3 separate regions of the Homo sapiens genome follow, and regions 1 and 2 are each linked to region 3. Evidence: fine-mapped expression QTL. A gene starts in region 3. Each other region holds a variant in brackets. All regions are shown on one strand. Distances are from middle to middle. Region 1 overlaps AKAP19 (A-kinase anchoring protein 19). Region 2 overlaps HIBCH (3-hydroxyisobutyryl-CoA hydrolase). Region 3 holds the start of HIBCH (3-hydroxyisobutyryl-CoA hydrolase).

What was found.
Region 1: its variant is fine-mapped to the expression of HIBCH in tibial artery (GTEx, PIP above 0.99).
Region 2: its variant is fine-mapped to the expression of HIBCH in whole blood (TOPMed, PIP 0.94).

Annotation. Positions count from the first base shown.
Region 1 is chr2:190,187,153-190,195,326 of GRCh38, reverse strand. The region is part of intron 1 of AKAP19 (A-kinase anchoring protein 19); the gene reads right to left. It also overlaps a transcript of HIBCH not described here. Among named protein-coding and RNA genes, the nearest start is that of AKAP19, 10 kb to the right of the region's middle. The variant C/T (reference allele first, on the strand shown) is at 4,911.
Region 2 is chr2:190,255,338-190,263,532 of GRCh38, reverse strand. HIBCH (3-hydroxyisobutyryl-CoA hydrolase) reads left to right here. Exons shown (of 14, transcript NM_014362.4): 7 at 2,299-2,377. Among named protein-coding and RNA genes, the nearest start is that of HIBCH, 60 kb to the left of the region's middle. The variant G/A (reference allele first, on the strand shown) is at 3,091.
Region 3 is chr2:190,314,708-190,322,902 of GRCh38, reverse strand. It overlaps HIBCH (3-hydroxyisobutyryl-CoA hydrolase), which reads left to right and starts at 3,077. Exons shown (of 14, transcript NM_014362.4): 1 at 3,077-3,187. The coding sequence starts at 3,153.

The sequences.
Region 1 (8,174 bases), 130 kb after region 3:
ATAAGTTGAACGCTTAAATCCATGCAAAAATCTGCATATGGATGTCTGTAGCAGCTTTATTCATAACTTTGAAAACTTAGAAGCAAGCAAGATGTCCTTCTTGGTGAATGGGTAAACTGTGGCACATCTAAACAATGGAACATATTCAGCATTAAAAATAAATGAGTTAGGCTGGGCATAGTCACGCCTACAATCCCAGCACTTTGGGAGGCTGAGGCGAGTATCATTTGAGCCCAGGAGTTCAAGACCAGCCTAGGCAACATAGCAAGACCCCGTCTCTACAAAAAAATTAAATATGAAAAAAATTAGCCAGGCATGGTGGTGCACACCTACAGTTTTAACTACTCAGGAAGCCGAGGTCACTTGGGCCCAGGAGTTGGAATTGAAGGTTGTGGTAAGTTAAGATTGATTGCACCACTGCACTCCAGCCTGGGTGACTGAGCAAGACCCCACCTCAAAAAATAATAATCCAGCCATGGGAAGAAAAGGAGGAACCTCAAATACTTATTACTAAGTTAAGCCAATCTGAAAGGGGTACATGCTGTATGATTACAACTATATGACATTCTAGAAATGGCAAGACTCTGGAGACAGTAAAAAGACCAGTGGTTGCCAAGGGTTATGGAAGAGGCTGAGATGAATAGGTGGAACAGACAATTTTTAAGGCAATGAAACTATTCTATATGATACTAATAATGGATTTCTGTCATACATTTGTCAAAAACCATAGGTTGTACAACACCAGGAATGAACCCTAAAATAACGTGGATTTCAGGTGATTGCGATGTGTCTAGTGGGAGATGCTGCGTGTGTGTGTGTGTGTGTGTGTGTGTGTGTGTGTGTGTGTGTATACACAGGATACGTGGGAACACTACTTCCTGCTCCATTTTTCTGTTAACTTAAAACTGCTCTGAAAAACAGTCTATTATTTTTTTAAAAAATACACCCACTATATGCTATCTATAAAAGATACACAACTTAAAACTGACAAACCCACAAGCATAGCTGGAGACTTAAAACATTACTAGAATAGTCAAAGAAAAAATACGTGTTCTGAACAACATTATGCTCCAACTTGAGTTGATATTCACAGAACACTACACCCAACAACTATTACATATTCTTATCAAGTGCATATGGAACATTCACCAAGATAGACTATTGGTAGTCTCAGCAGATTTCAAAGGCTTAAAACATTACACAGTACAATTTCTAACCACCCCAGAGAGTAAAATATCTAGAAAAGCCTCATATATTTGGAAACTAAACATATTTCTAAATAACCCATGGGACAAAGAAGAAAATCACAGGAGAAATTAAAATATAGTTTCAACTAAACAAAAGCCAAAACATCAAAATTTTGAAATGCATTAGTTTTAGAGCTTAGAAGGAAATTTATATACTTAAATGCTTATAATAGAAAAGAAGAAAAGTTTAAATCAGTGATATAAGCTTTCACCTTAAGCTAAAAAAAGAAAAGCAAATTAAACCCAAAATAAGTAGACAGAAGTAGGTAAGAACAGAAATCAGTGAAGCATACGATAGAGACAACAGAATGAATGCTGGTTCTTTAAAAAGATCTAATAGATACATCTCTATACAGACTGATCAAGAAAAGTCACATATTAAGATGTGTAATGGGCATTATGACATCTATATACGTTTAAAAGGCAAACAGGAATAATATAAACAATTTTATGCCAATATCAAATTACCAAAATTGGCACAAGAAAAAAATGATAGCCCTACATCAATTAAAGAAATTGTAAATCTTTCCAAAAAGAAACCTCCAGGCCCTAATGGCTACACTAGAGAACTCTTACCAAGGCCATTACGAGGAAGTAATACCAGTCTTATCTAAACTCTTCAGAAAAGAGAGAAAGAGGAAAGAAAGATTTCCCGAATTATTCTATATGAGGCCAGTATTACCAAGAAGACAAAACTCCACAGGCCAATATCCCTCATGAACATAGACCCAGAAGTTGGCAAATTGAATCTAACGTGTAAAATGGATAAAACATGATGACTGAGTGGATTTATACCAGAAATTCAAGGATATTCCAAAGACAATAGATATAATTCACTATATTAACATAAAAAAAATCAGATGATCACCTCAGTAGAAACAGAAAAAAAATTTTGATAAAATACCATTTTTTATTTTTAAAATCCCAGCAAAGTATTAATAGGAAGGCCTTCCTCAAAAGTAATGTTAGTGGTGAAAGACAACACTTTTTCCCTATGACAGGAGCAAGGCAGCAATAGTCATTCTCATGATTTCTGTTTGATATTTTACCGGAAGTCCCACTGAGTATGAGGAAGGGAAGACATACAAAGCATAAAGATTGAGAGAAGGAGAAAACTGCCATTATTTGCAGATGACAAAATTGTATAGAGAAAATTTTAAAGATTATATGGCCTCCCCCCAAAAAAAATTTACTGGAATAATTGTAGCAAGGTCTTAACATATAAAAGTGACATATAAAAAGTAATTTCTACAAACTTAGCAGAAGATGAAATTAATGCCATTTGCAATAGCATCAAAAACATGAACACTTAGGGATAAATTTAACAAAGCATATGAAGGAAAACTGCATTTTGTATTGTGTACGTTGTACGTGAAAAATACAAAATGTTACTGAGAAAAAGTAAAGAACCTAAACAAACAGACAAATGCTGTTCATGATCTGAAAGACAATATTCTTAGTCCTCCCCAAATTAACATGTATATTCGGCAAAATTCCAGCAGGCTTTTCTGTAGACATTGACAAATGGATTCTAAAAGTCCAGTCAAAATCCCAGCAGGATTTGTTTTATATATATAGATATATAGATACACACACACACACACACACACACACACACACACACACAGATTCTGAATTATACATGGAAACACAAACTAGAATGGCCAAAACAATTTTGAGAAAGAACAATAATTTGGAGTACTCCTATTATCTAATGTTAAGAATGACTATAAAGCTACAGTAATTAGTGCTATATTGACAAAAGGCTAGCCACAAACCTATGAAACAGAAACAAGTCCAGAGATACACCCATAAAAATATGGTAAACTGATACTTGACATGTCCAAAAACAATGAATGCAAAAAGGATAATCTTTTCAACAAATGGGATTGGAACAATTGGACATTCACATACTCTCCCCCCACCAAAATCTACTTATACCTTATACTTTATAGAAAAATTAACTCAAAAGGGATCATAGTTTTAAATGTAAAATGTAAAACTATAAAACAAGAAGACAAAACATTTGCGATCTTGGGTTAGGAAAAGAGTTCTTAGATGTGATACCAAAAGCATGAACCATGAAAGAAAAAAACTGGTAAACTAGACTGAATCAAAATGAAAAAGATTTGCTCTGGAAAAAAAAACACAGTTAAAAGATTGAAAAAAAAACAGCAAATATAAAAAATATTTGCAAGTCATCATCTAGCCAATAAATGACTTGAATCCAGAATATATAAGTATCAAAACTCAATAGCAAGACAACAACCCAGTTTAGAAAACGAGATTTGAAAGATTTAGGCAGTTCACTTGGTACCACCTATAGATAGCAAATATAAGTACATGAAAGATGCTCAATATCATTAGCCATTAGGGAAATGCAAATTACAGCCATGATAAGAAACCACTATGTAGCTGTTAGAATGGGTAAAAATAATACCAAGTGCTGGTGCATATACAGAGCAACTGCACTCTCATACATTGCTGGTGGGAATGCAAAATGACATGGCCTCTGGAAAAGTTTGGCAGTTTCTCACAAAGTTGGAATAACCACATAGAAGACCCAGCAATCCCACTCCTAGAAATTTACCCTAGATACATGAAAATTTGTGTTCACATAAAAAAATTGTATGCTGGCTGGGGACGGTGGCGCATGCCTGTAATCCCAGTATTTTGGGAGGCCTTGGTGGGTAGATCACCTGAGGTCAGGAGTTTGAGACCAGCCTGGCCAACATGGTGAAACTCTGTCTCTACTGAAAATACAAGAAAGTTAGCAGGGCATAGTGGTGCACACCTGTAGTCCCAGCTGCTTGGGAGGCTGAGGCATGAGAATCACCTGAATCCAGGAGGCAGAACAGAGGTTGCAGTGAGCTGAGATCACGCAACTGCACTCCAGCCTGGGTGACAGAGTGAGACTCCATCTCAAAAAATAAAGAAAAAAAATTGTATGCAAATGTCTGTCACAGCTTTATAATTGCCAAAAGTTGACAACAAAGATGTTAATGTACACCAATATGGATGACTCAAAGGCATGCTGATTGAACAAGCTAGTCTCAAAAGGTTACTTATTTATATGACATTCTGGAAAAAGGCAAAACTATAGGGACAGATGATAGATTAGTGGTTGACAGGAGGTTGGGGGTAGACTGTGACCAAAAGGGCAGCAGGAGGGACCTTTTTTGGAGTGATGTAACTATTCTTTATCCCGATTGTGGTGGTGGCTGTAACAAATCTAAACATGCGTTAAAATTCATAGACTTGTTCACCAAAATGAAGTCAGCTTTACTGTATGTTAAAAATTTTAAAAAGGTATTTTTTAAAACCACAATATAATTACCCACACTAAGATTGCTAAAATTTAAAAAACCCCAGTGCTTAGTGTTGGTGAGGACATGCAACGCATATATTGCTGGAAGGAATGTAAAATGGTACAACCATTTTAAAGAATTCCTTGGCTGTTTCTTAAAAAGTTAACCACACACTTACCCTGTGAACCAGCCATTTCATTTCTAGATATTTATCTAAGACAAATGGAAACACAGGTATTTTAAAAATCTGTATACCAATATCCATAGCCTCTTTATTCACAATAGTCAAAGCTGGAAACAACCCAAATGTCCATCAGTAGGCAAATCAAATGGATAAACAAATTAGGGATATCCT[C/T]AAAATGGAATATAACTTGACAATTAAAAAAGGATGAACTATTGGTATGTCAAACCACATGGATGAATCTCAGACATGTTGAGCCAGATAAAAAAGATGGATCATATTTATATGAATTTCAAGATTGGACAATAGTGACCCTATGAATAGAAATCATAGTAGTGATTCCCTTTGGGTGGGAAGAAGTAAGGACTGTTTGGAAGAGGCCCTGAAATAACTTTCTAGGCTATTAAAAAATTCTATATCTTAATTGGTATGTTAGTTACATGAGGTATATGTTAAAACATGTTAGATTGTACCTTTAACATCTGTTTACTGTATTTCACTGTAATTTTTACTTTAATAAGATATAAGAACAGTTTTTGAGAACATTCTGGGGCACCTAAATCCAGGGGACTGATGTATTTTATCTGAAAAAGACCGCCTATGGGCAGCATCCAGAGCGGACCAGCTCCCTGTGCTGGAGGACTCCAGTGTGAGGCCTGCTGCTTCCTTTCTACATTGGCCTGAAACCAGCCCAACTCAGTGGTCATAATCTTCTGGGCCTACCGAAGAGCAAAAGCCTACTTCTAGTTCTTCCAGTTGCCAGTTCAAGGGCTTTATCTGTCACTTCCTTTGGGAACAGGTAGAGTGCTTTGATTTAGAATGATGGCAATAAATGAGAAACCAATTTGAAATTGGATGTGAGAGTCTTTTGTCCTTTATTGTGTTGTTCCTGAACTTGTAGCTAAGGAGGGTAGAGTAGAGAGAGGGATATATAACCTTATCCAAGGAAATAGATTAGTAATACTTCATCCCCACCACACTTTAATTTGCACATATTTCTAGAGTATAGGACATCAAAAATACCTAGATATTAAAATATTTATGTTGTTAACCTTCAGCTGGTTTAGCCGTATCTATTAAGGATAGAAAACAACTGTTCTTCAGTTACTTATCACATCTGCTTACTAATTTATGTTATGTTTATCATCTCTTCCCATCTAATAGATGAAACAGGCAGATAGGTCTGGCTCTTCCACTTGCTGACCCAGAGTTCACATGGCAAATAAGAATGGAGCTGTCACTCCGAATTCCAGCTTCTTCTTGGAATAAAAGTGCTCCAACGGTACTTTATCCAATCCAGCCTATGTTTTTAAGTGTTAACTTTCTCCCTTTCTTGAACTTATAGAACCTCTGTCCCATCTTTGAAGTTAATTCTTGCCGGTAAAGACCAAGATAGCTCCTTCCCAGGGTCTCTGTTTCTTTCTTCTCATTGCCCCTGTCCTTGACCTGATCTCTGGGCTATCAGCAAGAACGTGATGGCCCAGACCTTCCCAGTCTCCCAAACAGGTCTCTGGGTACTACTACCCCAGGACTAGTTCTCAAATCTGGCCTTCAAGTCCTGTGTTGGGAAAAATGACACTGATATATTCATGTAATTAGGTAATCATCTGGTCCAGTAACTAGCTATCTAATGGAATTGCTCATGGCATGCTGAGAAGGTGCAGTTGCCCTAATTGAATGGATTAGTAAACTGCCCCCACATATTTGTTAATCAGATTTTCATGCTATAGTTTCCATCCCACAGAAGCCTCAAGATTTATCATGAATAAAAAAGCATCATCCTTAAAGTAAGAGCCAAGAGGGAAAAAAAAGTTCATGTGAAGCATCTACTGTTCATAATAGCAGCTGTTTAAATACTTTTAAATACTTAAAAGGCAGTTACAATACAGTACTTTAAATACTTAAAAGGCAATTACAGTATAAGCCTGCACACCAGTGAAGAACAAACTTCGTATAATTTCAATCACTCCTAATAAGATAGTTGATTCATAAGGAGGAAATAAAGTTTCAACAATGTTAGCCATTAATGCAAGTCAGTGGTTAGGCAGCTATGATTAGCCTTAAGATAGCAGGTGTGATCAGCTGTCCTGAATTAATTTTTAGTCTGTTATTCATTTGTCAGGTTGGGAAGTGACTATGGTCATCAGTTGAAGGTGTGATACATTAAATGCTGCATATCAACCAGGAAGTGTTTTGGCCTTCTTGTCATTTTAACTGGCTAATTACAGAAATATAAAATGTTTAAAAAACACAGTTTCTCAAAAATATTTAAATCAATCTTTTATACCTTAGTTCTCAAGATACACAAAAGAACTATCAGAGCATCCCTTAACCATCCAACCAGTCTATATTGAGTGTCTACTATGTGTTTAGAACCTGCGCCCATAGAATGTAAGTGCTTCCAAAATTAACAAAATCAAAAGGAGAAAGAGAATATAATTTATTCAGGCTATAAGTATTAAAATCTAACAGTGCCCTTCCACCCACCACTCCCTCTCCCTCTGTCTCCTACCCCTCAAATCACAATGCACAGACACATATATACACATGACAGTCATACATGAGGAAAAGAAAGCCCCTTTACATGTTTCAATGTTATTTGAAGGCTCAAAGCTCTAAAAATATAGAATGAGCCCTGACACTATCCTCAGGAAGAGATCTAGCAACAACTGGGCCTTCTGTTGGGTCCGTCAAAGAAAAAATGTGATTTACTGCAGCTACCCACCTTTTTTCTCCTAGAGCCAGGGTCTCAGTCCATCGCCTGGGCTGGAGTACAGTGGCCAGTTGTGGCTCACAGCAGCCTCGAACTCCTGGGTTCAAACTATTCTCTGGCTTCAGCCTCCTGAGTACCTGCGACTATAGGCACGTGCCACCATGCCCACGTTATTTTTTATATTGTTTGTAGAGACAGCCATATTGCCCAGGCTGGTTGTGAACTCCTGGCGTCAAGTGATCCTTCTGCCTTGGCCTCTCAAAGTGCTGGGATGATAGGTGTGAGCCACCATGCCTGCCTAGCCCTTCTTTATAGTTCATTTTGTAGCTGTGTTCCTCCATTCTGGGTGCAGTGTCATCAAAAGGAGTAAATTCCTTGGGAATATGCCAGTGGAAGGTATCACAAAAAGGCCATAATTTGGACATGAGTTGGACCCAAACACAAAACCAGCAAAAAAAAAAAAAAAAAGTAACTTCTAAAATCTGCTGTGTAAACGAATAGGCTGCTAACTCCCCAGAAGTCCATCTTAAACACTGGATTAACAGGGATGGTTTATTTTACCATTGTCCCATTTTATGTCATATTCTTAAGCCTTTACACAGGTTTCTAAGATGCCTTATATCTCAAGTTATTGCTTAAAATTGGTCTCACCCTGAATTAATGTAAATATATAAAAAAACCATGTTGTGGTCTTTGAAAAAGTTTTATGCATATATATATAAAAT
Region 2 (8,195 bases), 59 kb after region 3:
TGTAGACAGGACAGAGTACAGTGGGGTAGAGTGAAGTGGAGTAGAAGGATGACATCTAATTATTGTGGCAGGTCAACACTTTGATATCAGGGAGAAATGAAAGAGTAACTAATGAGTTAGATTTTAAAGCAGGAATGTATGGTGCCTCAAAGCCCAGTAAAGCATTTCATAAAGTAGGAATGAGCAACTGTCAAATATTACTGAGCTATTTAGCTAGTGTTCAGCTTGGTGAAAAATGAGATTTGACTACTGGGTTTGGTAGGTTTGGGGGAGAGATTTGAGGAGAGTTGGAATTGGAATAAAGTATTATATTTGGAGAATGAATCTGTATAAAATTAGCTAATACAATAAAACTTGAAGACTTTGGAGCCTTTTTAGTCTAGCAAAGAAGTATCAGCTAAGATTAATGGTTAAATAAAATGTAAAATCAAATTTCAGAAGTTAAGAGGGCTGCTTACAAGTAACCTATAATAGATTCTTTGATGTAAGATAGAAAAATTAGTTACGAATCTGCCATTAGGGTTTTATACCCCATTCGAAATGGTTCAGCGTATTCCTAGTATCTTCAAGTGAAGTGGCTTGACTATTCTGAACCTTCATCTTTATTGAAAGGCTTTAAAATTGGCTCTTAATGATTCTTATGTCAGTGGTCTCTTATTCTGATAGTTTTTCATTAATAACTTTTTGCTCAAATCTTGATGTCTTTTCTTTAATTCACTATTATCAGCCAATGCTAAAATAAAACATACTCTATGTAATATAAGATAACAAATGGAATCAATGAATCAGTTACCCCGCATGGATCTGTAGCTTCTATGTGAAGTAATATGGGGTTTTTAAGTTTCTTTTTCCATAGAGTTCAGGAGGTGGAGAGGGCCCTCTGTAGAGAATTTGGTCTGTTAGGTTGTTCCTTTGTAAAGGAATGAAGATTCCAGAAGATGTGATGGGAATGACTAGTCAGGGACAGCAGTGTTAGGAGGTTGTGTTGGGAGGAAAAGCACAGAACAGTATTGCAGTGAATATATACTGGGGGCCCAAAGACTTACGTTGTGTGATGCTGATGGCAGGATCTAGGTCTAGTTCTAACTGAAAATGTGGTGAAGAGACATTTTAATTGGAAAGAACAGAGACTCACTCAAAAAGATCCACAAAAGAGAATGGGGCAGTTATTAGACAAGTTCAGGGACCTTAGGCATTGCTTATGTTCCTGAAAATTGGACTGCAGGTGTGGGCTTGAGGCAAATTTAAGTTGTGTGTTTATTTTTCTATCTCTGCTTCTTTTTATGTGTTTGTTTTGTTTTCTGTCTTGTACAGACTGCAGCATTCTCAGGGTTTTTTTCTTTTCTTTTCTTTTCTTTTTTTTTTTTTTGTCTCTACCGCATATAAAACCAGCTTTTACTTGGCTGTCATTGTCATCTTTAGCTCAAATGTCAGATGACCTTTAAGCTTCACTGCCTGTCATCGACTGACAACTGTGCACTGTGTTTTAGTTTTAAGTACCTAAGAGTAAGAAGAACCTTATCTAATTCACCCCTGCCTCTTTGCTCCCCAGGCCTCTGAATTCTGGTTAGTCTCCATTGGCTGCCCTTGGGTCCATTGCCAATCCCTAGTTCAGCCCCTCCTGGGGAAAGGAAAAGAGAGTCTCTGGGCAGAGCAGATTCCCTTAGAGAAAAAGCAGTGATTGAGCAGGCAGTGGCCTTATCTAGTAGTTTTTCTTCTTACCTTAGAAGTTTTATGATTAATTGAAATTGTAAAAGCTTAAAATTTTGGAGGAATGGCATGAAGCCCCCATGGCTAGTGGAACGAGTGCGGGAAGAGTGATGGGAGATAAAGTCAAAGAGGTCAGCTAGGCCAGGTGATATAGAGCCTTGCAGGCCATGGAATAGAGTGTGAATTTTATATATGTATAGTTGTATATATTCTTATATATAAAATATATATCAGATAAATAGACACATTTGTTCATATATAAGAAATACATAGGGAAAAAAATCGTAGGTTACTTACCAAATGGATAATAGCTATGTGTCTCTGTGGAGGAAGAGAATGACCAGACAAGAATGGGGGTGTGATCAGACTTTATGTGTAAATGTTTAATAAAGGGGAATATAGTCATGTGCTGTTTGTGGAATTCAAAGTTAATTGAAAGAGGTGGGGACAACCTATTCCCTGAAGCAAGTTCCTGTGGAGTATAAAGATAATTTACTTGCTTTGTAATTTTGTAAGTGTGTGAATTTGCTTGTTTTTTAACAATATGTTTAATTCCCCCCCGCCTCTTTTTTTGCCTTTTTTCTCTAGGGAGTTGGTCTCTCAGTCCATGGGCAATTTCGAGTGGCTACAGAAAAGTGTCTTTTTGCTATGCCAGAAACTGCAATAGGTAAACAACCAGAATTTTTTTTATAATTACTTTTAGCATCATCTTCTTTTGATATGTTTCAGAGTTTACTGTTGTTGAAGGAATTGATGGACTCTTGTGTGAGATGCAACAATGAAAGGATTTTAAAAAAGAAATTAAATAGGAAGATACTTTGAAGTCTATATTAGCTCAATGATTATATCTGAAAACACAAAACTGAGAACATTAAAGGAGACATTAACACACTATAAATAAAACATTAACACTATAGATAAAATATCATTAAGGGAATATATTTTTGCCTTTAGATCTGTGCAGTTTTGAGTTGTGATCAAAACTATCATATGACACTTCTGAGTTAATTTTTGTATATGGTGAGGGGTGTGGATCACCTATATAAGTCAAAGTTTATTTTGTATATGGAAATACAATCATTCCAGTACCAACTGTTGAAAGGGTATTGTTTTGCTACTGAATTGCCTGTGTAGCTTTGTTATAGTTGTCTATAGATGTCAATCATGGTGCCAACACCATGTTGTCTTGGTTAGTGTTGCTTTATAGTTAAGTCTTAAAATCAGGTAGTGACAATGTTCCACCTTTGTTCTTTGTATCTTACCAAGTTGCTTTGGCTATATAGGTTCTTTATCTTTCCATATGTATTTTAGAGTTACTTGTCGATTTCAACAAAAAAGCCTGCAGATGAATTTAGAGAGAATTGACATCTTAACACTATC[G/A]AGTCTTTTCAGACCTGTGGGCAAGATATAATTCTTCATTTATGTAAGTGGTCTTTAATTTCTCTCAGCATGGATTTTTAGTTTTCAGTTTATAGGTCTTATCTTTTGTCATATTTATCCATAAGTATTTCATATTAATGATATTTTTGAATTGTTAGTTACCAGTCTAAAGAAATACAGTTGATTTTTGTATTTACCTTTATCATGCAGACTTGCTAAACTCACTTATTAGTTTTAGTTGCTTTAGATTTGAATTCGATTCTACTTTACTGGAATTCCTAAAGAGACAATTATGTCATTCACAAGTAAGAGCAGTTTTACTTTTTCCTTTCCTTTTTCTAATCTGGATACCTTTTATTTCTTTCTCTTGCCCTATTGCGTAGAATAGAACTTCCAATACAATGTTGAATAGAAGTGGTGAGAGTGGACATTTTTTCCTTGTTCCTGATTTTAGGGGAAAGCATTTAGTCTTCTACCAATTAAGTTTGATGTTAAGGTATATATTTTTCATTTAAGATAAGGAACAAGACAATGATGCCTGCTCTCATCATTTCTGTTCAATGCTGTATTGAAAGTCCTTGCCAGAGCAATTAGGCAAGAGAAAGAAATAAAAGGCATCCAAACAGGAAAAGCAGAGGTGAAACTGTCACTGCTGATGACATGCTCTTATATATATATGGAAAACTCCAACAGCTCCAGTAAAAAACTGTTTGAACTAATAAATACAGTAAAGCTGTAGGATATAAAATCAACACATAAAAATCAGCATTTCTATACACTAACAACAAACTATTTGAAAAATAAGAAAACAATTTCATTTACAAAAGCATCAAAAAGAATAAAATACTTAGAAATAAATTTAACCAAGTAGGTAAAATCTGTATGGCGAAACGACATCCCTACAAAAATAACAAAAGATAGCTGGACATGGTGGCGTGTGCCTGTGGTTCCAGCTGCTCAGGAGGTGGAGATAAAAGGATGGCTTGAGCCCTGAAAGTAGAGGCTGCAGTGAGCTGAGATCATGCCACTGCACTGTAGCCTGGGCAATAGAGCCAGACCATGTCAGTCAGACAGACACACACACACACACACACACACACACACACACACACACACACACACATCTGTATACTGAAAACTACAAAACTTTGATGAAAAAAATTGAAGAAGACACAAATAAATAAAAAGATATTACATGTTCATGGATTGGAAGAATATTTTTAAAATGTTCTTACTACCCAAAGTGATCTACAGATTCAGTGTAATCCCTATCAAAATCCCAATGTCAGTTTTCAAAAAAATAGAAAAAACAATTCTAAAATTCATATGGAACCAAAGAAGACTGCAAATAGCCAAGATAATCTTAAGCAAAAAGAACAAAGCTAGAGGCTTTGTATTGACTTCAAACACTATTGCAAAGTTTTAGTAATCAAAACAGCATAGTACTGGAATAAAAATGAATACGTAGACCACTGGAAAAGAATAGCAAGCCCAGAGACAAATCCATATATTTGCAGTTAAGTGATTTTCAAGAAAGATGCCAAGAATACATAATGGTGAAAGGACAGTCTCTTCAATAAATGATGTCAGAAAAACTGGATATCCATATGCAGAAAAATGAAATTAGACCCATACCTCATATTATATTTTAGAAAAAAACCTCAAATGGATTAAAGATGTAGTCATACAACCTGAAACTGCAAAACCACTAGAAGAAAACATATGGGAAAATGACGTGACATTAATCTGGTCAATAATTTTTTGGCTTTGACGCCAAAAGCTCAGGCAACAAAAACAAAAATATACGATTGTTGTCGTATATACACATGTTGTTGAATCTATCCAACATCCAGGCTACACTGATGCAAGGGGTGGCTCCCAAGGTCTGTGCATAGACAAATAGAATTACATTATGTAAAACGCTTCTAGAATCACAGCAAAGAAAACAATTAGCAGAGTAAAGAGGCAACCTATTCCAATCTCTGCTCGTTGCCTAGTTCCCAAGTCACTTCTACATTTCCAGGTATCTTTATAGCAATGCCCTACTTCTCTGGTACCGGTTTGCTGTATTAGTCCATTCTCACATTGCTATAAAGAACTACCTGAGACTGGGTAATTTATGAAGAAAAGAGGTTTAATTGGCTCACAGTTCCACAGGCTGTACAGGAAGCATGATTGGGGAGGTCTCCAGAAATTTACAGTCGTGGCCAAAGATGAAGGGGAAGCAAGTGCATCTTCACGTGGCTGGCAGGAGAGTGAAGGGAGAAGTACTGCACACTTTAAAACAACCAGATATCATGAGAACTCACTCATTATTATGAGAACAGCAAGGGGGAAATCTGCCCCCATGACCCAATCACCTTCCACCAGGCCCCTCATTCGACACTGGGGATTACAATTCAACATGAGATTTGAATGGGGACACAGAGCCAAACCATATCAGGGCCTTTCAAGAAATTTGTCAATTTGTTAGCATAAAGTTGTTCATAATTGCTTTTTTGTATGTGTCGCCTGAAGTTCACGTGTTGGAAACTTAATTCCCAACTCAGCAGTGTTGAGAGTTGGTACCACTAAGAGGTGAGTGGTTCATGGGGGCTCTTCCAGTTTTTGCAGGTTAGTTCCCGATACAGGGATGACTTCAGCCCCCTTTCCTTCTGCTCTCTTGTCCTGTCTCACCCTTGCCTTTTGCCGTGGGATGATGCACCAAGAAGGCCCTCGTGTGATGTTGGCACCATGATATTGGGCTTCCCAGCCTCCAGAACTGTGAGAAATAATTTTTTTTCTAAATTACCCCGGTCTGTGGTATTCTGTCATAGCAACACAAAATGGACTAAGACAATAATATTCCCCTATTATCTTTTTAATATCTGTAGACTCCTTAGTGATTTCTGGCTCTCTTATTCTTGATATTGGTCATTGTGTCTTCTCTTTTTTTTTCCTGATCAATCTAGTTAGAGGTTTATTAATTTTATTGATCTTAAACAGATTTTTGTTTTCATTTATTTTTTATTTTGCTGATTTCTGCTCCAGTATTCATTCCTCCTTTCTTCTGCTTATTTTAGATTTTGTTTGCTCTTCTTTCATTTCCTCAGGTGAAACCTGAGTTCACTTGTATGAGATGTGGGTATGGAATTCGATTCTACTCTGGTTTTTAATTTCAGTAATTTAAAGATGTTACTACACTGTCATCTCATTTAATTTCCTACAGAAAGTCTTCTCTCTTCCTTATTTTTGTTCCTGTGTCTTTTTATTTTCTTTGGCTGCTCTTAAGATTTTCTCTTGATCACATGTTTCAAGCTATTTGATTATGATGTGCTTTGGTGCTCTTCATATTTCTAATGCTTGTGGTTATTGAGCTACTTAGGTTTATAACTTCTGTCAAATTTGGAAAATTTTCTGCCATTATTTCTACAAATACTTTTTTTCCACCCATTCCGTTTTCAGGAATTCTGGTCATACTTCTATAAGGCTCACTTATGCTTCATTCATTAAAAACATTTTTTTTCTCTCTTTCATTTTAGATAGTTTCTGTTCCTGTGTCCTTAAATTCATTAATCTTCTCTTCTACAAGATCTAATCTGCCCTTAATCTCATCCAGGTATTTTTCAGCTTATACATTCATTTCAGTTTTCATCTCTAGAAGTATGATTTGGTTCTTTTTCTGAAAAGAAAAATTTTCTGTGTCTCTAACTTCTTGAATATATAGGTTATGTTTGTGATAACTGTGTTAATGTTTTTGTCTGCTGGTTCTTACATTTATGTCGGTTCTTATTTTTTTAAATCCCCTTTTAATGGTTAGTATTTTCCTGCATCTTTAGATAGCTGGTAATTTTTTATTGAATTGTACATATTGTAAACTTTACTTTGTCGGGTGCTGGATATTTTTGTATTCTTTTAAGTATTTTTGAGATTTCTTCTGAGATGAATTTAAATTCCTGGGAAACATCTTAATATTTTCAAGTGTTGTAAGATTTATTATTATTATTTTTTTTTTTTTTTGCAGAATTGGAGCAGTGGTCCAACTAGGGCTAATTATTTCCCACTACTGGGGCAAGATCTTGCTTTGTGTTCTGCACAGTGCCCCATGACATCAATCATGAGTTTTTCTAGTCCAGATGGTGGGGAACATGCTGTTTTTAGTCCTGTGTGGGTTCCCAGTACTGTTCTCTATAATCATTTTCTGTGATTCTTTCCTTAGTCTCATGTAGTGATATGGTTAGGCGTTGTGTCCTCACCCAAATCTCATCTTGAATTGTAATCCCCGTAATCCCCATGTGTCCAGGGAGAGATCTGGTAGGAGCTGATTGGATCATGGACGCAGTGTCTCCCTTGCTGTTCTCATGATAGTGAGTTCTTACAAGAGCTGATGGTTTTATAAGGGGCTCTTCCCCCTTTGCTCCTCACTCTTTTTTCTCCTACTACCATGTGAGAAGGTCCAAGCTTGCTTTGCCTTCTGCCATGATCGTAAGTTTCCTGAGGCCTCCTTAGCCATTTGGAACTATGAGTCAATTAAACCTCTTTCCTTTATAAATTACTCAGTCTCGGGTAGTGTGAAAACTGACTAATCATGTAGTTTCTTGACACACACACACACTCTCTCTCTCTCTCTCTCTCCATTCCTAAGCTAAGTACTTAAAAGAGACACCCTGCAGATCTCCAGAGCTTTCTCTCTGCAGCTCTCTCCGCTCTGGTACTCTGTTGTGGGAATTCTAGCTGTCTTGGTTTCCCTAGACTCAGCTTCATCTTCTCAAATGAGGCACTGTGCTGGGCCTGGGAATTCACTCAAGGCATGAAGTTGGAGCTGTTGTAGAATTTACCTTGCTTGTTTTCTGATATTCAGAGACCACTTTTCTTTATTGCTTGATGTTCAGTGTGTTGAAAACACTATTGATCCATATATTGTGTCTGTTTTTATAGTTGTTTCAGGTAGGGGGATAAGTCTGGTTCCTGTTACTCTATCTTGTCCAAAGTATAAGTCTCCCAGATGGCTACTTTAAATTGGATGATTAAAGATGCTCTCAGAGGAGTTGTCCTTTAAGCTGAGATGTGAATAGCAAGAGTCAGCTACATGAAGAACTGAGAGCAGAATATTGTGGCATTAAGAA
Region 3 (8,195 bases):
AGCTGTACTGTTGTACATCACCAGTGGTGTCTGAGGATTCCAAATTCTCCTCACTAACACTTGTTTTTTAAAAAATTATGGTGGGTGTGAAGTCATTGTGGTTTTGATGTGTATTTCCCGATGGCTAATAATGTTGAGCATCTTTTCATATGAGTATTGATCATTCATATATCTTTTTTGGAGAGCTGTATAGTATATTCAAATCTGTCATCCATTTTAAAATTTGGTTATTTAAATTGTGATAGTTCTTTACATATTCTAGATAGCCTTTTATCAAATATATCATTTATAAACATTATTCCTCATTCTGTGGATTGTATGCCACCAGAATTCTTTTCCAAAATGATACAAACTCTTGAAAAAAGGGTCTGGCTGTTTCACATAAAACCAAACATTGATGTACCCTATAACCAAGACATTCTATTTATAGATATTTACCCAAGAGAATAGGAAACATATGTCTACAATAGATTTACACAAGAATGTTTACAGCAGCTTTATTCATAATAGCCCCAACTGGCAACAGCCCAGGAATCTATCAGGAGGAGCACAGATCAGTAAACTATGGGGTATTCATATAATGAAATACTACTCAGTAATAAAATGGAGGAAACTACCGATACACACGATATGGACATTTTGCTAAGTGAAAAATGCTATACAAAAAAAGCGCACACTGTATGATTCCATTTTATATGAATTTTCAGAAGATGCAAAACTAATTGATGGTAGAGAAAAATCAGACTGGGTGCAGTATTTAACACCTGTAATCCTAGCACTTTGGGAGATCGAGGCGGGGAGATCTTTTGAGCCCAGGAGTTGGAGGCCAGCCTGAGTAACATGGCAAGACTCTATCTCGCAAAAAAAAAAAAAATACAAAAATTAGCTGGGTGTGGTGGCATGTGCCTGTAGTCCCATCTACTCAGGAGGCTGAGGTGGGAGGATTGCTTCAGCCCAGGGAGGTTGAAGCTGCAGTCAGCTATGACTGTGGCACTGTACTCTAGCCTGGGTGATAGAGTGAGACCCTGTCTCAAAACAAACAGTGGTTCTCGAGACAGAACAGTGGTTGCTTCTGGGGCGGGGGTTGGGGTGGGGAAGGCAGTGGTAGGCAGAGAATGTCTGGGAAATCGTGAGAGGAAACTTTTTGGGGTGATGACAATGGTTTATATCTAAGGAATTTTGGTTACACAAGTGTATACATTTGTCAAACTCAGTGAATGTACACTTAAGATTTGTGCATTTTGTTGTATGTAAATTTTGTCTCAAAAGGGAAAATATGTAAACAAATATTTAACTCTAGGTAGTAAGACACATGCCATATTTTGGGAGAAGTAAAACGATGCTTGTAATTAACTTTGAAATGCATTTAAAAATAAGGTATTTGGGATAAGGAATAAAGCAAGATAAAATGTAAATCTAGGTAGAATCTATGTGGTGAGCACATAGGCGTTTGCTTTAAATTTTTATAATTTTGCTATATGTTTGAAAATCTTCAAAATAGAATGTTAAGATAATTTTCTTTAAAGGACTGAGGTTTCTAGAGCGGGAAGCCAGAAGACGATAGCATCATTAGAAGAAATAGAGAATTTAGGAATAGGAAGGACAGCTTGGTGGAAGGTGTGGCATAACTGACAGGTCTTGATACCTACGAAGTCCTAAGTAATTTATGCACATATTTCTATATTTCAATGGATCTTCACAAACACCTCTAATCATCAGCACATCCATTTTCAGATGAGAAAATGGAGGTTCTGAAAAGCTATATAATTTGTTCAAGGTCATTAAACTATTAGTGTGCTAGGGGTAGGACTGATTACATAATTTGCAGGCCTAGTGTAAAATGAAAATTTGTGTTTCCTTGTTCAAAAATTATTAATAGCACAGCATTAAAACAAGCACAGGGCCCTTCTAACGATGAGGCCTTGTGAGACTCAGGTTTCACACACATGAAGCTAGGGCGGCAAGGAAGATTTGAATCTCAGTCTGACTAACAGGAAAGCCCATGCTTTTTCCAGTAAACCATGCTAGGTCAGATGAATGGTTCATTTCTGTGCGCAGTGAATGAGGCATGATGGTGATGTCAGATGGTGATGTCCTGTAGCCAGTTAAAAACCAAATTGCAGGTAAGGAGTTCCTTCTGTGATGTCTGTTGTCTGTCCTCTTCTCAGTGGGCATTTGGTTATTACATTTGACCTAGGTTAGCAACGTAATTTTTGATCAAAGTCTCAACAGTGTATCTCTTTAAATATCAAGGTACTAAGAATAACTCCTTTCATGTGTCCTCTCTGAAATTTGTCACCGGATTTCTTCTTTCTGATAAATGTGTCAATACTTAATAGTGGCGATGAAATGTCTTCTGCTACACATCTGGGTGGATCTGGAAGCGGAGGAACGTTTTCCTCAATTTAACAGTGGATCCTAGTAGTTGAGTTAAATGTTGGTTTCATTTAAGAGTAAGCTACTTTCTGAATGTAATTATGCTTCCACTGATAACAGCAACTTTTACTTTAGTTGGGAAGACATATCTATTATGTCTTAATCAGACAACTCTTGTGTGTCTTTGAGGAAGAGTGGGAGATCTGTAACTTTTCCCAAGAAAAATGAAAATGTCTCAATCCTAATATTAAAGGAATTCGGCTGTATTGGGTTAGGAATGAATAAACTACATCGATGTCCTTTATCAACTGTAATTCCTCTACTTGAGTCTCAAAGAATACTAAGTTTACGTTTTAATAAAAAATTACTAAAATTCCAGAAAAGTCTTTCACATCAGTCCCTGCTGGTCAAATTGGCAGGCCAAGCCTAGACAACAGGTTGCGCTTTGGGCTAAGACAGCCTCTAGAGGGCAATCTCCTTTCCTGCGAATCCGCCCTAGTCCGTTCTATCCTCCCTCTTCCCGCTCCGCCTCAGCTCGCTCTCCGCCTTCTCCCTGGCCCGGTCCCCGATCCCTTCCTCTCCCTCAACTATTTCCTCCAGGCGTCGTTCTTGCCCCGCCCTTCCCCGTCGCGTAGCGGAAACGGTCGCTCTGGCTTCCTGGAGGACTTGTCATCTGTGCCCGGCGGCGCAGGACGGCGGTGGGCGGGGCTCACGCGAGGCGCTGGAACGGTCCGGGAGATTCTCGCTCTGCTGCTTTAGCTTCGGAGTGTTTGGCGATGGGGCAGCGCGAGATGTGGAGGCTCATGTCGAGGTGAGTGAGAGAGCGAGGGGCCAAGGGCAGGCTCTTCAGCGGCACTCGCCACAGTGGGAAAAGGGCCGGGGGTGGAGACTGCTGGCCTCGAAGTTTCGAGTCGCGCTCAGAGGCGCCGCTGTGAGACCCCAACCTTGGCCCTCCCCAAGCCCCAGCCCCCGTCCCTGTCTTTCCTTTCTCCCTCTAGCATCTTCTTTGCAGCAGCACTCTGGTTTTCTGCCACTCTGGCTCTTAATTCAGGCTTGTCCCCACACGACTTTAATTCTTTTGGCCTCAGTTTCTTTCCTTTCTTAAAAGTTGGGTGCAGTCTGGGGACACGGACAGATTTAGCTTAGCGGAACTGTGCGGCATGTTTTGTGCAGCCAGCACACACAGGTGCTTTGCCAGTTGCTGCACCTCTCTCTGCCCGTGGTGTGATTTTATTCAGCTTTCTTGCATGGCTGCAGCGTCAGTATAGGCATTTGGAACTTTCAGGCTAGTGTTGAGGGACATTTAACGTGGCATGGGGGAGCATGTTTGCAAACATTGTTTAACTTTTTGAAAGTACCCCTCACTGCGCTTTGAGCTCAGCCTAGGAAATCTGGTAGCCATCATCTTTAGGCTGCATGCGCCTTAAACAGCCCACTGCCTGGCCCTGTACTGTCATACCAGGTAGCAGCTGCGCCCACTTGAAGGGAGAACCGTCCTTATTTCTTTAAAATAAGGACGACTTAAATTACTGGATTCTTTAAGCCTTAGAGTTTGCCTTCTGGGTTTCCTGAAAAGGGATGGAGGTGTTTCCTTGACTTAAGAAGAATAGTTTCAGGGGAAAGTGTCTAGATGTCTAACACTGTATCCACAGACCTAATTCTCAGTAAATTTTTGTTATACATTTAAGAGTTGCTTTTCTGTTTGTTTTTTTAATACCTTAAAATTAGTTGTCCTTGCACCAGCTCATGGAGAGATTTAGTAAATGCTAAGAAAATCAGTACACGTAATCGTTACTGCCGCTTTTTCAGTGTTGTCAGCAAATAGCAAATAGAGAAACAAACTGGAAAGACATGTTTGTTAAAGTTAGCTGACTTAGGAAAGGATCTGTCATTTCCACAATTCAGCTTGGCTTTCTTCCACCCCACGTTCCAAGATGCAGTACTCTGTAGGTGAGGCCAGGACCATTTTGGGGGCTTTGATCTGAGATGCCTTTTCCAGACTCAGCCCTGAAGTGGGTATTATCCTAGAAAGCAGAGGCCAAGATGGTCCAGTCCACAATACCCTAACCCACAACTGTATAAGGGAATAGGGTGCCACGGAAAGTGTTTCTGAGAGGAAAAAAGGCCTTGGGCCATGGTTGACAGTGTTGGGCAGCCCCACTTGAACTCTGGCCTCCCTTGGCTTCTTCGGTACTGGCCTACTTTTCTAATGCCACTCTCCACCGCCTCTCCTTACCCCAGTGCCAGTTTAGCTCTTGGACTTTTTTTTTTTTTTGGTTCCCAAATCATCTGTCTTAGGGTAACTCAAATTTTTGTCTAACCTGACTTGCCCTGAGCTCTAATGCTGGTCACAACCCTCTGAATGCCTCAGTTGCACCTCATATATAAATTTGCACTTAAGGGCTAGGCGCGGGGGCTCACACCTGTAATCCCAGCACTTTGGGAGGCCGAGGCGGGCATATCATCTGAGGTCAGGAGTTCAAGACCAGGCTGGCCAACATAGTGAAACCCCGTCTCTACTAAAAATACAAAAAAATTAGCTGGGTGTGGTGGCAGGGCCCTGTAATCCCAGCTGCTTGGGAGGCTGAGGCAGGATAATTGCTGGAACCTGGGAGGGGGAGGTTGCAGTGAGCCGAGATCATGCCACTGCACTCCAGCCTGGGCGACAGGGTGAGACTCTGTCTCAAAAAAAAAAAAAGGAAAAAAGGAAAAGAAAAATAAATTTGCACGTAAGTATAACCCTTACTCTTTGTCTCTCTTGGCACTATCATTCTTCTAGATTCTCAAACTTACCTAAGTTCTCCCACACTCCCAAACCTTAACCTCTTCCTGTGGATTCAGGTTTCAACAGTAGTCTCAAAGTTAATCACTTTTTCCTCTTCCCAGTGTGAATTGTTTCTGTACAAGATTGCCAGGTTAATCTCGCTAAGGTTTTACTTCAGTGCCTGCCATTCTTCTCAGAATCTCACAGAGGTGCCCTTCTGCTTATGCAATTAAATACAGTTTTACCAGTCTGGATTTCACAGATTTGGCCCCAGTATATTCATGGATGAACAATTACCTACTGTTCTGTTCTACTTGCTGGGAAGCACAGTTCTAGGCATTTCTATTATCCTGTAGCCACTCTGGACTACTTGGTTTTCCTACTGTTCCTTATGTAGGGCCCTTGGAGTCTGAAAGGAGAGCAGATAGGAAACACATAATTAGACAAAAGTAATTTTTGATTACCAATTCTGGTAAGTGTCTTAAGGGACAAGTACAGTTATGAGAGCCAGATTTAGATAGGGAGAGGGAGTCAGGAAGCCTCATCAGAGAGGTTGCTCTTCGCTGGGTGTGGTGGTTCATGCCTGTAATCCTAGCACTTTGAGAGGCCAACATGGGAGTTCAAGACAATCCTGGGCAACATAGCAAGACCCCGTTTCTACAAAAAATAAGAAATAAAAAAACTAGCTGGGTATGGTGGCATACGCCTATCCTTCCAGCTTGGGAGGCTGAGGTGGGAGGATCACTTGAGCCACAGAGTTCAAGTTTACAGTGAACTATGATTGTGCCACTGCCCTCTAGCCTGGGCAACATGGAAAAACCTAGTCTCTAAAAATAGAAATAACAGGAAGAGGGTACTTTTAGGTTGTTAATAGGCCTCATTGCCTTTTCCATCTCCTCCATCCTCTGCTGAACTGTATTGTTTTGGTTCTTGCTCTTTGCCTGTCTTCTCTTTTACTTCTAGTTAGTTGTTTCTTAGTTGATCAAAGGCTCAATCTTTGTTGCTCTTTTAGGTTGTTTTCTGTGTTAGGAATCATGAGCCTGAATGCAGAGGCTGAGAAGGAAGCATTGAAAGATGCTGGCTAGATGGCAGCATGGGGGACTGGTGAACTGGAGAGAGTGCTCTAGAGAGGAGGCAGCTTCTCAGCCCCAGCCATTGTTGCCCTTATAGAATATAGACCCAGGGTTTCCATTATTACTGATTTTTCTGGAAAACCTGGAAAAAGTGCAGTTTTAGGTGAAATGTCTTGATTTTTAAATGTTAGTAGTTTTTTTCTGTTTTTCTTCTTTTTAATCTCTACCATTCCATCCAGATAATGTTAGTAGTTTTAAAACTGCTCGGCTGGGCATGGTGACTCAAGTCTGTAATGCCAGCACTTTGGGTGGCTGAGGCTGGAGGATCACAGCCCATGAATTTGAGACCAGCCTGGGCAACATAGACTGTCTCTCTACAAAAAATTTAAAAATCAGCCAGGTGTGGTGGTGTGCGCCTGTAGTCTTAGCTGTTCAGGAGGCTTGAGTCCAGGAGATTGAGGCTGCATTTGAGCCCATGTATCATACCACTGCACTCCAGCCTGGGTGACAGAGTGAGACCCTGTCTCTAAAAATAAATAAATAAATAGAATACAAAAATAAAATGCTGCTGACCAATACCACAGTTACAGTTGGCATCTTTCTGGCAATTAGTTTTCAACTGCAGCCTTCTCATTTATTCCTTACAGAAAGCTGAGAGATTCCAGTGTCTCAGTGATTGTACATGCATGTGGCATAAGATATACCTTTAGTTCTAACTTTTCTTTCAACCTCTAGTCTCTTTCTTCTGTTGACTATTTCTGCTTATGTCAGTACAAATTCAAATTCAAAAAATTGAATTTGTATTTCGTCCTGCAAACCAGCTAGCTTCTTTCCCTGTCTTTTCTATATTCTCCTGGTTGTCCTGGCTTGAAATCTTAAAGTCATTTTTGACATTCCTTTCCATTGAGTTTTTACTTTATAAAAACTCTTAATAATATCACTCCCTTCTGTTTCCACATCTGCTGTTCTTCATCACCCCATGCCTAAATTATTGGCCTCCTGGACTTGATTTTCTGCTCTGTTCACACCTTGCCTACTTCTGGGATAATAATTTTCACTAAGCACTACTTTGTGATGTCTTCTTCCTGCTTAAGCAGTTTCATGTAGTTGTTTAATTTCGTGAGGCCATGTTTGTTTTATTGGATAATTGCAAAAAGTTCCTGAGTGATAAAGTTCTCATCTAAGACAGTTGTTTATTTAAACTTCACGCATCATAACCACCTGGAGGGTTTGTTAAACACAGATTTCTGGGCCCCACAGTTTCTTGTTCAGTAGGTCTGGGGTGGGGCAGAGAATTTCAGTTTCTAGTCAGTTTCCAGGGGATGTTGATGGTACTTGTCCAAGAACCATACTTTGAGAATAACTGTTCTAAAAAGCCAAGTTGACATCAGTTGAAGGAAATAAGCCTGATAAAGTTAATTAAGAAATTAGAAGTAGCAGGCCGGGCACAGTGGCTCATGCCTGTAATTTCAGCACTTTGGGAGGCTGAGGCGGGCGGATCAAGAAAGAAGTCAGGAGATCATGACCATGCTGGCTAACATGGTGAAACCCCGTTTCTACTAAAAATACAAAAAATTAGCCGGGCATGGTGGCAGGCACCTGTAGTCCCAGCTACTCAGGAGACTGAGGCAGGAGAATGGCGTGAACCCGGAAGGCAGAGCCTGCAGTGAGCCGAGATTGCACCACTGCACTCCAGCCTGGGCGACAGAGAGAGACTCAGGCTCAAAAAAAAAAAGGAGCGGAGAGGTGCATGCCCTCTTCCTCTCCACCAGATGGCAGTTTTGGAACCAATAGAAAAGAAAGATCATAAATTCAGAATTACCTGGGGACACTGAATTCTCAATTACATTTTGAGGTATAAAAGCTAATATCAAATTTTAAGTGACAGCTGAATTTGAATTAGAACGAATGGGCTGGGTGCGGTGGCTCACACCTGTCATCCCAGCACTTTGGGAGGCCCAGGTGGGCGGATCACCTGAGGT